2 separate regions of the Homo sapiens genome follow, and region 1 is linked to region 2. Evidence: fine-mapped expression QTL. A gene starts in region 2. The other region holds a variant in brackets. All regions are shown on one strand. Distances are between the middles of the regions. Region 1 has its middle 8.0 kb from the start of SRSF12. Region 2 holds the start of PNRC1 (proline rich nuclear receptor coactivator 1).

Region 1 (5,370 bases), 45 kb after region 2:
TTACTTTAAATTAGCTCACTTTTATTTAAAAAGAAAGCTCTATCACCAATATTAATTTTTAAAGTTTTATGGACAGAAGGAGAGCCAGGCACAGTTGCTCATGCCTGTAATCTCAGTGCTTTGGGAGGCTGAGACAGGAGGATTGCATAAGGGCAGGAGTTTGAGACTAGTCTGGGCAACATACGATACCTCATCTCTAATAAAAATAAAAACAAATTAGCTGGGCATGGTGGTGTGTGCCTGTAGTCCCAGCTACTCAGGAGGCTGGAGCACAAGAATCTCATGAACCCAAGAGGTGGAGGTTGCAGTGAGCTGAGATCGTGCCACTGCACTCCAGCCTAGGCAACAGAGTGAGACTGTCTCAAAAAAAAAAAAAAAAAAAGGTTTATAGACAGAAGGAGAGCCAGGCACAATGGCTCATGCCTGTAATCCCCGTGCTTTGGGAGGCTGAGGCAGGATGATTGAGGCCAGGAGTTCAAGACTAGTCTGGGCAACATATGATAACTCATCTCTAGTAAAAATAAAAACAAATTAGTTGGGCATGGTGGAGTGTGCCTGTAGTCCCAGCTACTCTGGAGGCTGAGGTGGGAGGATCACTTGAGTCCAGGAGGTTGAGACTGAAGTGAGCTGTGTTCGTGCCACTGCACTCTAGCCTGGGCAATAAAGCAAGATCATGTCTCAAAATAATAATAATAAACAAAACCATGTTGGAAATTCCAGCCGATTACTTTTGTCTGCGCAGGCTCCAAGCCTGCTCTCTCTTATAAAAGGGAAATTAATCACTCAATATAGAGATGTTGAAGACATACTGGCACAAAACTAAAACTTTCTCCCTAATGTAAATATGGAAAGGGCCTAGTCTGGGCAACATACGAAACCTCATCTCTAATAAAAATAAAAACAAAGTAGCTGGGTATGGTGGTGTGTGCCTGTAGTTTTAACTCTCACACTATGCAATTCCACATTTAATGTCTCATCAGTGTAACATATAAAACTAAATAGTACCACCACTGGTGAGTATCTTTAATTTTTGAGAGACGTTCTTGCTAGAGATAGACACGTATGTAAATAAGTCATTATAATATTGTTTCATTAGTGCCACATAAAGGTATTTCGGAGTAGTATGGAGGATATAATGGAAACAGATTAGTTCTCTGGCGGGGAGTACTAGGAGTTATTTTAGAGGAAATCAATGTTTGTGCTATTTATTGGATTAAATTCACCCAGGAATAAAAAAAGCAAAGTGAACTCGATGAGCAAAGGGACATTTGTGGTGAGAGTAGTGTAGTGTTGCTGAACTAGGGGAGAAGGAAGGAAGAATGCTAAAGAGATTGGAATGGAGATTTAGAGCCAAAGTTGTTTTTGTTGTTGCTGTTGTTGTTTTTTTTTTTTTTTTCAATTCGGGGTCTTGCTTTGTTGCCCAGGCTGGAGTGCAGTGGTGCAGTCATGGCTCACTGCAGCCCCAACCTCCTGGACTCAAGCAATCCTCCCACTTCAGCTTCCCAAGTTGCTGGTGCTACAAGTGTGTACCACCATGCCCTGCTAATTTTTAAATTTTTTATAGAGGTAGGTCTTGCTATGTTTCCAGGCTGGTCTCACACTCCTGGCCTCAAGTGATCCTCCTGCCTCAGCCTTCCAAAATGCTGGGGTTACAGGTATGTAACCCCACTGTACCTGGCCCCATCAAGATTTTTTAAGCAGGAGATTAAGATCAGATTTGTGTTTAATAAGGATATTCTGACAAAAATGTGGAGGATGAATTGGAACAGTAGAGACTGGTACAAGCAGATCAGTTAAAAGGGTCTTGTGTGTGATATATTTTCTCTTTTAAAAAGTATTTCTCACCGGGCGCGGTAGCTCACGCCTGTAATCCCAGCACTTTGGCAGGCCGAGGTGGGCGGATCACGAGGTCAGGAGATCGAGACCATCCTGGCTAACACGGTGAAACTCCGTCTCTACTAAAAATACAAAAAATTAGCTGGGTGTGGTGGCAGGCGCCTGTAGTCCCAGCTACTCAGGAGACTGAGGCAGGAGAATGGCGTGAACCTGGGAGGCGGAGGTTGCAGTGAGCCGAGACCGCGCCACTGCACTCCAGCCTGGGTGACAGAGCGAGACTCC[G/A]TCTCAAAAAAAAAACCATTTCTCAGCTGGGTGCAGTGGCTCATGCCTGTAACCTCAGAACTTTGGGAGGCCAAGGCAGGTGGATTACCAGAGGTCAAGAGTTCAAGACCAGCCTGACCAAAATGGTGAAACCCCGTCTCTACTAAAAATACAAAAAAATTAGCCGGGCGTGGTGGCGGGTGCCTGTAATCCCAGCTACTCGGGAGGCTGAGGCAGGAGAGTCTCTTGAGCCCAGTAGGCGGACGTTGCAGTGAGCCAAGGTCGCACCATTGCACTCTAGCCTGGGCAACAACAGCAAAACTCTGTCTCAAAAAAAAAAAAAAATTCTCAGCCAGGCACAGTGGCTCATGCCTGTATTCCCAGCACTGTGGGAGGCCCAGACAGGCGGATCACTTGAGGTCAGGAGTCCGAGACCAGCCTGGCCAACATGGCAAAACCCCATCTCTAGTAAAAATACAAAAATTAGTTGGGCATTGGGGTGGGTGCCTGTAGCCCCAGCTACTTGAGAGGCTGAGACAGGAAAATCACTTGAACCTGGGAGGTGGAGGTTGCAGTTAGCTGAGATCATGCCACTACAATGCAGCCGGGGCGACAGAGTGAAACTCTGTCTCAAAAAAAAAAAAAGTAAAGTATTTCTTGGCTGGGCATGGTGTCTCATGCCTGTAGTATCAGCACTTTGGGAGGCCAAGGCAGGAGGATGGCTTGAGCCCAGAAGTTGGAGACCAACCTGGGCAACAAAGTGAGACCCCGTCTCTACAAAAAATTAAAAAGTTAGCCAGGTGTGGTGACACGCATCTGTAGTCCCAGCTACTGGGGAGGCTGAGGTGGGAGGATCACTTGAGCCTGTGAAGTTAAGACTGCAGTGAGCCATGATTGCACCACGGCATTCCAGGCTGAGGGACATAGAAAGACCTGTCTTAAAAAAAAAAGGCCTGGCATGGTGGCTCACGCCTGTAATCCTAGCACTTTGGGAGACCGAGGCGGGTGGATCACAAGGTCAAGAGTTCAAGACCAGCCTGGCCAAGATGGTGAAACCCCATCTCTACTAAAAATACAAAAATTAGCTGGGCATGGTGGCAGGCGCCTATAATCCCAGCTACTCGGGTGGCAGAGAATTGCTTGAACTTGGAGGTTGCAGTGAGCTGAGATTGCGCCACTGCACTCCAGCCTGGGTGACAGAACGAGACTCCATCTAAAAAAAAAAAAAAAAAAAAGGAGTTATTAGCATTGTCCACTGAAAAGGCTTAGAAACAATGACCAGCCCAGTACCATTTGGCACCCCTTATGGCCCAGACCATACTCCCTAAATATAATTTTGTCTTAAAATAAACAATGACTTTTTGGAAGTGTGGCTGATTCCATGCTTGAGGGAAAAATGTACACAATGAACCTAAAATATCTTGTCATATCAGAAAAAAGTTATCAAAAGCTTCTGGGGTCATGTGAAAAGGATTCCAAAGACAATCCTGGCTAGAGATAAGACAATTTGAGTAGCAATAAGAACAATAACTGCAATGAATTAAAACATATCAAATATTTTTAAGTGCACAAGTTCATAATTATACTAAAAAACAACCCTAATTGGTCACCTTTGGATCCTAACTTTCCTGTATAAATTTATTCCTCAGGGTAACCCAAATGGTTGATGAAGGAAGTTTTGTTTTGTTTTGTTTTTCTAAAAGTATTCCAGTCAATAAAATAAAGAGGAGATGATAGAATTATAATGTCATAATTTTGCAACCCCTAATGAAGTAGTGGGTCCAGGCAATGGCCATAAATGACTGCTAAATTAATACAAAGAGAAACATCCATTATATGCTCTTCTGAAGGAAGTTCACATCAGTACCTGTGAAATGCTTTTTTTTTTTTTTTTGAGACGGAGTGTCACTCTCTTGCCCAGGCTGGAGTGCAGTGGTGTGATTTTGGCTCACTGCAACCTCTGCCTCCCGGGTTCAAGCAGTTCTCCTGCCTCAGCCTCCCGAATAGCTTGGATTACAGGCATGTGCCGCCAAGCCTGGCTAATTTTGATTTTTGGTAGAGATGGAGTTTCACCATGTTGCCCAGGCTAGTCTCAAACTCATGACCTCAGGTGATTCACCCATCTCAGCCTCCCAAAGTGCTGGGATTACAGGCCAGAGCCACTGCACCTAGCTGAAATGCTCTTCCAAAAACACTGAGTCTAGCCTAGCTCAGCATTGGTTAATAGAACTTTCTGTAATAATGGAAGTGTTCTATATCTGCACTGTCCAATACTGTGGCCACTAAACACATGGGACTATTTAAATTTAAAATAAAATTTTAAATTCATTTAGTCCTGTTGTGGGAAGTCAGGGACCCCCAAATGGAGGGACCGGCTGGAGCCGCAGCAGAGGAACATAAATTGTGAAGATTTCATGGACATTTATCAATTCCCAAATAATACTTTTATAATTTTTATGCCTGTCTTTAATCTCTTAATCCTGTTACCTTCGTAAGCTAAGGATGTACATCACGTCAGGACCAGTGTGATAATTGTGTTAACTGTACAAATTGATTGTAAAACGTGTGTTTGAACAATATGAAATCAGTGCACCTTGAAAAAGAACAGAATAACAGCAATTTTTAGGGAACAAGAGAAGATAACCATAAGGTCTGACTGCCTGCTGGGTCAGGCAAAAAGAGCCATATTTTTCTTCTTGCAGAGAGCCTATAAATGGACATGCAAGTAGGAGAGATATTGCTAAATTCTTTTCCTAGCAAAGAATATTAATATTAATACCCTTGGAAAGGAATGCATTCCTGGAGGGAGGTCTATAAACGGCTGCTCTGGGAGTCTCTGTCTTATGCAGTTGAGATAAGGACTGAGATACGCCCTGGTCTCCTGCAGTACCCTCAGGCTTATTAGGGTGGGGAGAAAACTCCACCCTGGTAAATTTGTGGTCAGATCAGTTCTCTGCTCTCAAACCCTGTTTTCTGTTGTTTAAGATGTTTATCAAGACAATATGTGCACTGCTGAACATAGACCCTTATCAGTAGTTCTGCTTTTGCCCTTTGCCTTGTCATCTTTGTTGGACCCTTATCAGTAGTTCTGCTTTTGCCCTTTGTCCTGTTCCCTCAGAAGCATGTGATCTTTGTTCTGCTTTTTGCCCTTTGAAGCATGTGATCTTTGTCCCTACTCTCTGTTCTTACACCCCCTCCCCTTTTGAAACCCTTAATTAAAAAACTTGCTGGTTTGAGGCTCAGGTGGGCATCATGGTCCCACCAATATGTGAT
Region 2 (5,370 bases):
TCCAGCCGCCTCGGCCTCCCAAAGTGCTAGGATTACAGGTGTGAGCCACCACGCCTGGCCTGAAATGTAGTTTTAAAAGCTTATAAGGTTGACTGGGTTTGGTGGCTCACTCCTGTAATCCCATCACTTTGGGAGGCTGAGACAGGCAGATGGCTTGAGCTCAGGAGTTTGAGACCGGCCTGGGCAACATGGTGAAACCCTGTCTCCACTAAAAACACAAAAAATTAGCCAGGAGTGGTGGTGTGTGCCTGTGGTCCCAGCTACTCAGGGGCGTGGGGGGCTGGGGTTGGAGGATCTCTTGAGCCTGGGAGGCGGCTGTTGCTGTAATCCGAGATCATGCCATTGCACTCCAATCTGAGTGTCAGAAAGAAACCCCGTCTAAAAAAAAAAAAAAGTTTATAAAGTGATTGGGAAGCATTTTTCTGGATATGCAATCTGTCCAACTTTGCCATCAATCATAAAACGTTTCATTGCTTACTAATTGCTTACTACTCCAAAGCTGAAAACTATTGTAGAGGCGGTGAGGATACAGAAGTGTAAGATTACTGTGGTCTTCTAATAATGTAGAATCTAGTGTGGCAGGGCTGGACGCGGTGGCTCACGCCTGTAATCCCAGCACTTTGGAAGGCCGAGGCAGGCGGATCACGAGGTCAGGAGATCAAGACCATCCTGGCCAACAAGGTGAAACCCCGTCTCTACTAAAAAATACAGAAATTAGCTGGGCGTGGCGGGTGCCTGTAATCCCAGCTACTAGGGAGGCTGAGGCAGGAGAATCTCTTGAACCAGGGAGACGGAGGTTGCAGTAAGCCGAGATGGCGCCACTGCACTGCAGCCTGGCCACAGAGTGACACGCCGTCTCAAAAAAAAAAAAAAAAAAATTAAAACTTTTGTCTTGCAGTACCTGGACTGGAGATCAAATTCTGATGTTAACTTACCGTTTGATCTTTGACAAGTCCTTTAGCCTTTCTAAGCCTGTTTCCCCAGCTGTAAAATGGGAATAAAATACAGTACTGTCCCTCCAAAAAGAAGCTGAGGCAAAATCAGGCCAAGCTTGAGGACTGCAACCCAGGACCATAGATTCAAGCTGCCCTGAATATACACTCGGATTAGCAAGTTACAAGTAGGTTTTTAAAGGAAAAGAGGCAGCTCCTAAATTGTTTACCAATTTACATTAAAATATCGTGGGCTCTTGACTAGCTATACATTGTTCTTTGTATCTTAAATTTCAGAAACTTAAAGATAATGCGTAGGCAGCTAATCAGGAACAAAATGCCTTTAAACAATTGCCCCAGGCATTAGTAGTGAAAGGAAGAGAATGACAGCCTGCCTACTTCGCAGAGCTGAGGTCTGATCTATTTTTCTTAGTACCTATTCGTAAGGGTTGTTGTGAGGTTAAAGTGAGACAATCTATGTAAAGAACAGTTCCTGGAACATAAATGCTTGATAAATTATGGCCACAATTCTTTTTTGTGGTTGAGCAGTGCGGGGAGATCGCGAAAAATTTCTATTTACGCGCAGCTAACAAAATACTCTATGTTGCAGAGCTGTTTCACTTTCTCCCTTTGAGACGCAAGCCGGCTTGCCGCCTCCTCAAGTAACCAGGCACAATGTTCTGATCCCAAAGTCTCACAATCCTTCAAGTATGAAATCAGTAAAAACTCCAACTTCCATTTATGGATTTACGGAGAACTTTTTATACATCGAGGGGCTAATTCAATCAGTAAGTCACTTTGATTTTTACTCTGATCACCGAGACTAATAAGCAGCGATGCCGAACCAAGTAAATGAAAGAATCGTGAGCCATACTTCAGTAGATAAAATTTAAATGTAGACTGATTTTCTTCACGATTGCTAGGGAAGAAATCCTTACAGCGTACTTAGAAATCTTTGTTTTAAAATGATAACGCTGTTATGTTGGGCTGAAAATAAAACGGATACTTCCCCAAGGTCAGCAGCGGAGGAGGCAACCGTGGCCTTGCCAAAGTCATCCCCTCTTCCCAGCCCCCGTTCTTCCTGCCGCCCTCCCCCTGCCCCCTCCCTTCCCCACCCCCATCAACAAACTCCGCCGGGACATTTCAGTACCACCACTCCCTAGCCCGGCGAAGCGCAGGGGCGTGCTGGGGAGGAGTAAAGAGGGTGGGGCGGAAACCCAATTTCATTGTTCGCGGGACCGATTCTTCCCAAAAGAGCTCGCTGGCAGCGCCTGCGCAGTGCGCCCTCTTTGTGCCAGGCTGCAGCAAGCTGGTTGTTTGTGTGTGTCTACCCGAAGCTGCGGAGGCGGAGCGAGGGGGCGTGGCCTGCCTTGTCGCACTCTAATTGGGCTTTCGCAGGAAAGTGGGCGGGCGCGGGGCGGAGCTTCCGATAACAACACTCGGAGCTGGGGCTGTGGCTATTTGTTGCTGCGCCGCCACCGCCCGAGTCATGTTCCGCGATCTTCTCAGGCTCTCCTAGCAGCATCCATCGCCGCCACCCTATCTTCACTGGCTTCATTCACCTTCTCCTTCTCTCTTCGTTGCTGAGCGACAAGCTTCCTAGCGCTATGACTGTCGTCTCCGTCCCGCAGCGGGAGCCGCTCGTCCTGGGTGGCCGCCTTGCGCCGCTTGGCTTTTCCTCCCGAGGTTACTTTGGGGCCCTCCCGATGGTGACCACGGCTCCGCCTCCTTTACCCCGGATCCCGGACCCCCGGGCACTGCCCCCGACCCTCTTCCTCCCTCATTTCCTAGGGGGAGATGGCCCGTGTCTGACCCCCCAGCCTCGCGCTCCAGCAGCTCTGCCCAACCGCAGCCTCGCCGTGGCGGGAGGCACTCCTCGGGCAGCGCCGAAGAAGCGGCGAAAGAAGAAGGTGCGGGCCAGCCCCGCAGGGCAGCTGCCCAGCCGCTTCCACCAGTACCAGCAGCACCGGCCGAGTCTGGAGGGCGGCCGGAGCCCCGCGACCGGCCCGAGCGGAGCGCAGGAGGTCCCGGGCCCGGCCGCCGCCTTGGCCCCGAGTCCTGCAGCCGCAGCCGGCACGGAGGGAGCCAGCCCCGACCTTGCCCCGCTGCGGCCCGCGGCTCCCGGCCAAACCCCCCTCAGGAAAGAGGTGAGGCCGCCAGGGGGCCGTTGGGGAGTCGGGCCCTTAGACGGTCGCGGCCGAGCTCTGGGGCTGCAGACCCTGCACCCGGGGGGTCGGGCGGGTGGGGGCGGGGTGGGGGGGGCGGCTGTTTACTCGGGAGGGAAGTTTCCGTGACGCCCGCTCCATTCTTGCTTTGGGGGAAGAAGGGGGAAGGGGAGGCATGCGCTGGCGCTTCTGATTGGCTCCCAGGAGTCGGCCAATGAGAAGCGCCGCTGCGCCCCAGCAACAGCCCCGATTTAGAAGGCTGGCGGCGTTCCAGGGGGTTTCGGCGTTCCGGGCGCGCGGCGGGGTGGGGGCAGGGACAGGGCCCGCGGGAGGGCTGACGTCAGCGCGCGCTACGTGCCCGGCGCTCCGGCGCCCATGAAGGAGGCGAGGCCGGGTGGGGGCAGCTGGGGAAGGACTGGGCCCGGCTTTCGGCCTCCCGGCTATCGGGAGCCCCAGTCCTAGTCGGTGAAACGCGGAGACGGCCTCTAACGTCCCGCCGTAGGGGGTGGAGTGGGCTCCGAGCGGCTGGGTTTCGTTTGGTTGGAGTTGTGCCAAAATGTGAGGTGCCCGGTGTGGGACGCGCAGTCCAGTTGGGGCTCTGCCCGCCTCGGGCCTGACCTACTTAGTGGTTCCAAGTTAAGAGTTGGCAGGAGCCGCACAAAACTGATTTTATTACTTTTGCCACTGTGGTACTTCGTGTTAGTGTGTCCAGAGTAAGTTTTCAGAAGAGTTAGCAATTGAATTGACTTAGCCCGTCTGATTGCAGTGCTATTGCATTAGGATAAAATGGATAGAAGTTTAAATAGGATTAAGTCTACGAAATGATTTCAAAGTCTTGTCAGAATAACGTTTTATGGACTTAAGTTCAATGACTTAATCTTCGTAATAATGAAATGAAAAAGTTCCCGTTATTTAGTGAAGAATGTTGCATTGAATTAGAGATTTGCGGTTTATCTGTGCCCTTGGGAAAAAATTTGCCCACCTTGTTTCTTTAAATTATCGTCTCAATGTCTCCCTTTTAAAATTCCACGACTTTTGAAATATCCGTGATTACCTAAAAGCTTTTGTGCTTGTTTCCTGGCCTGTTTTCTAGAACAGGTACTAACTAGGGAGCTCTGGCAGTGAACCTTATTGACGTGGAAAGTTGTGGTCCTCTTTCGTGTCGTGTCTTGCTTACTACCGCGTTACAAGTGTTGGTAGTGCAGTGATCTAGTGGATTACCTTACGCTTTTCCATCCTTTCAAGACTTCCTATAAGGCCCACTTAAGTTGGGAAAGATTAAGGTGAGTGAAGCAGCGTTCTTGAAGCAGTTACTAAACCAGAAAGGAGGTACACAGCAAAGATTGTTTCTGGCACTCGTATTTGGAAGAGAGCTCATTAGTCTTCCTTACAGTTGTAGAAAGGTGGACTTGGGTTATTTCAGACTTTTTTTAGTTTGACATTTTAGAACTGGTTCACGTTGCATACTGGTAACTAGCAGTGGTGATTAACTGCATTTTTAGTGGCGAACAAGAGTGAACTTAAAAGTCAAGGGAAATTTAAGTTTTTTGTTGTTTTTTTTTTCTTGAGACAGAGTCTGCCTCTATCGCACTCCAGGCTGGAATGCAGTGGCACGATCGATCTCTGCTCACTGCATCCTCCCCTTCCCAGGCTGAAGGGATCCCGCCTCAGCCAGCCTCCCGAGGCGCGTGTTACCACGCCGGGCTGATTTTTATATTTGTAGTAGACATGGGGTTTCGCTATGTTGCCCAGGCTGGTCTCGAACTCCTTGAGCTTGAGCGATCTGCTTGCCTTGACCTCCCAAAGTGCTGGGATTACAGGCGTGAGCCACCATGCCCAATTAAAGTTTTTGTAATTTTCAGCTTTTATTTTAGATCAAGGAGGTACTTGTGCAGGTTTGCTACATGGGTATATTTCGTGATGCTGAGGTTTGGAGTATGAATGATCCCATTCCAGGTAGTGAGCATAGTACCCAGTAGGTCCCCATCTCTCTCTCAACCCCCCTTCTAGTAGTGCCTAGTGTCTGTTGTTGTTCCCCACTATATCCATGTTGTACCCAGTGTTTAGCTCCCAAATTCACTTGTAAGTGAGAACTTGCGATATTTGGTTTTCTGTTTCTGCATTAATTCGTCTAGGGTAATGGCCCCCAGCTACATACGTGTTGTCACAAAGAACATAATTTTGTTCTTTTCTATGGCTGTGGGCAAACTTAAACACAACAAAACTAGATATGTGATATGAGGTTCATAACTGATTTTTATCTAGAAACTATA

Evidence for each region. PIP is the estimated chance that this variant, and not a neighbour inherited with it, causes the effect.
Region 1: its variant is the best candidate, but not a certain one, in a credible set for the expression of PNRC1 in T cells (TOPMed, PIP 0.70).

The regions. Positions count from the first base shown.
Region 1 is chr6:89,123,357-89,128,726 of GRCh38, forward strand. It overlaps a transcript of PM20D2 not described here. Among named protein-coding and RNA genes, the nearest start is that of SRSF12, 8.0 kb to the left of the region's middle. RefSeq lists an enhancer at 5,034-5,328 and a silencer at 5,034-5,328. The variant G/A (reference allele first, on the strand shown) is at 2,119.
Region 2 is chr6:89,078,356-89,083,725 of GRCh38, forward strand. PNRC1 (proline rich nuclear receptor coactivator 1) reads left to right here and starts at 2,396. Exons shown (of 2, transcript NM_006813.3): 1 at 2,396-3,079. The coding sequence starts at 2,540. PNRC1-DT (PNRC1 divergent transcript) reads right to left here and starts at 2,225. Exons shown (of 1, transcript NR_187250.1): 1 at 1,807-2,225. RefSeq lists enhancers at 1,501-1,590, 3,109-4,069 and silencers at 2,021-2,230, 2,281-2,430, 2,821-3,200.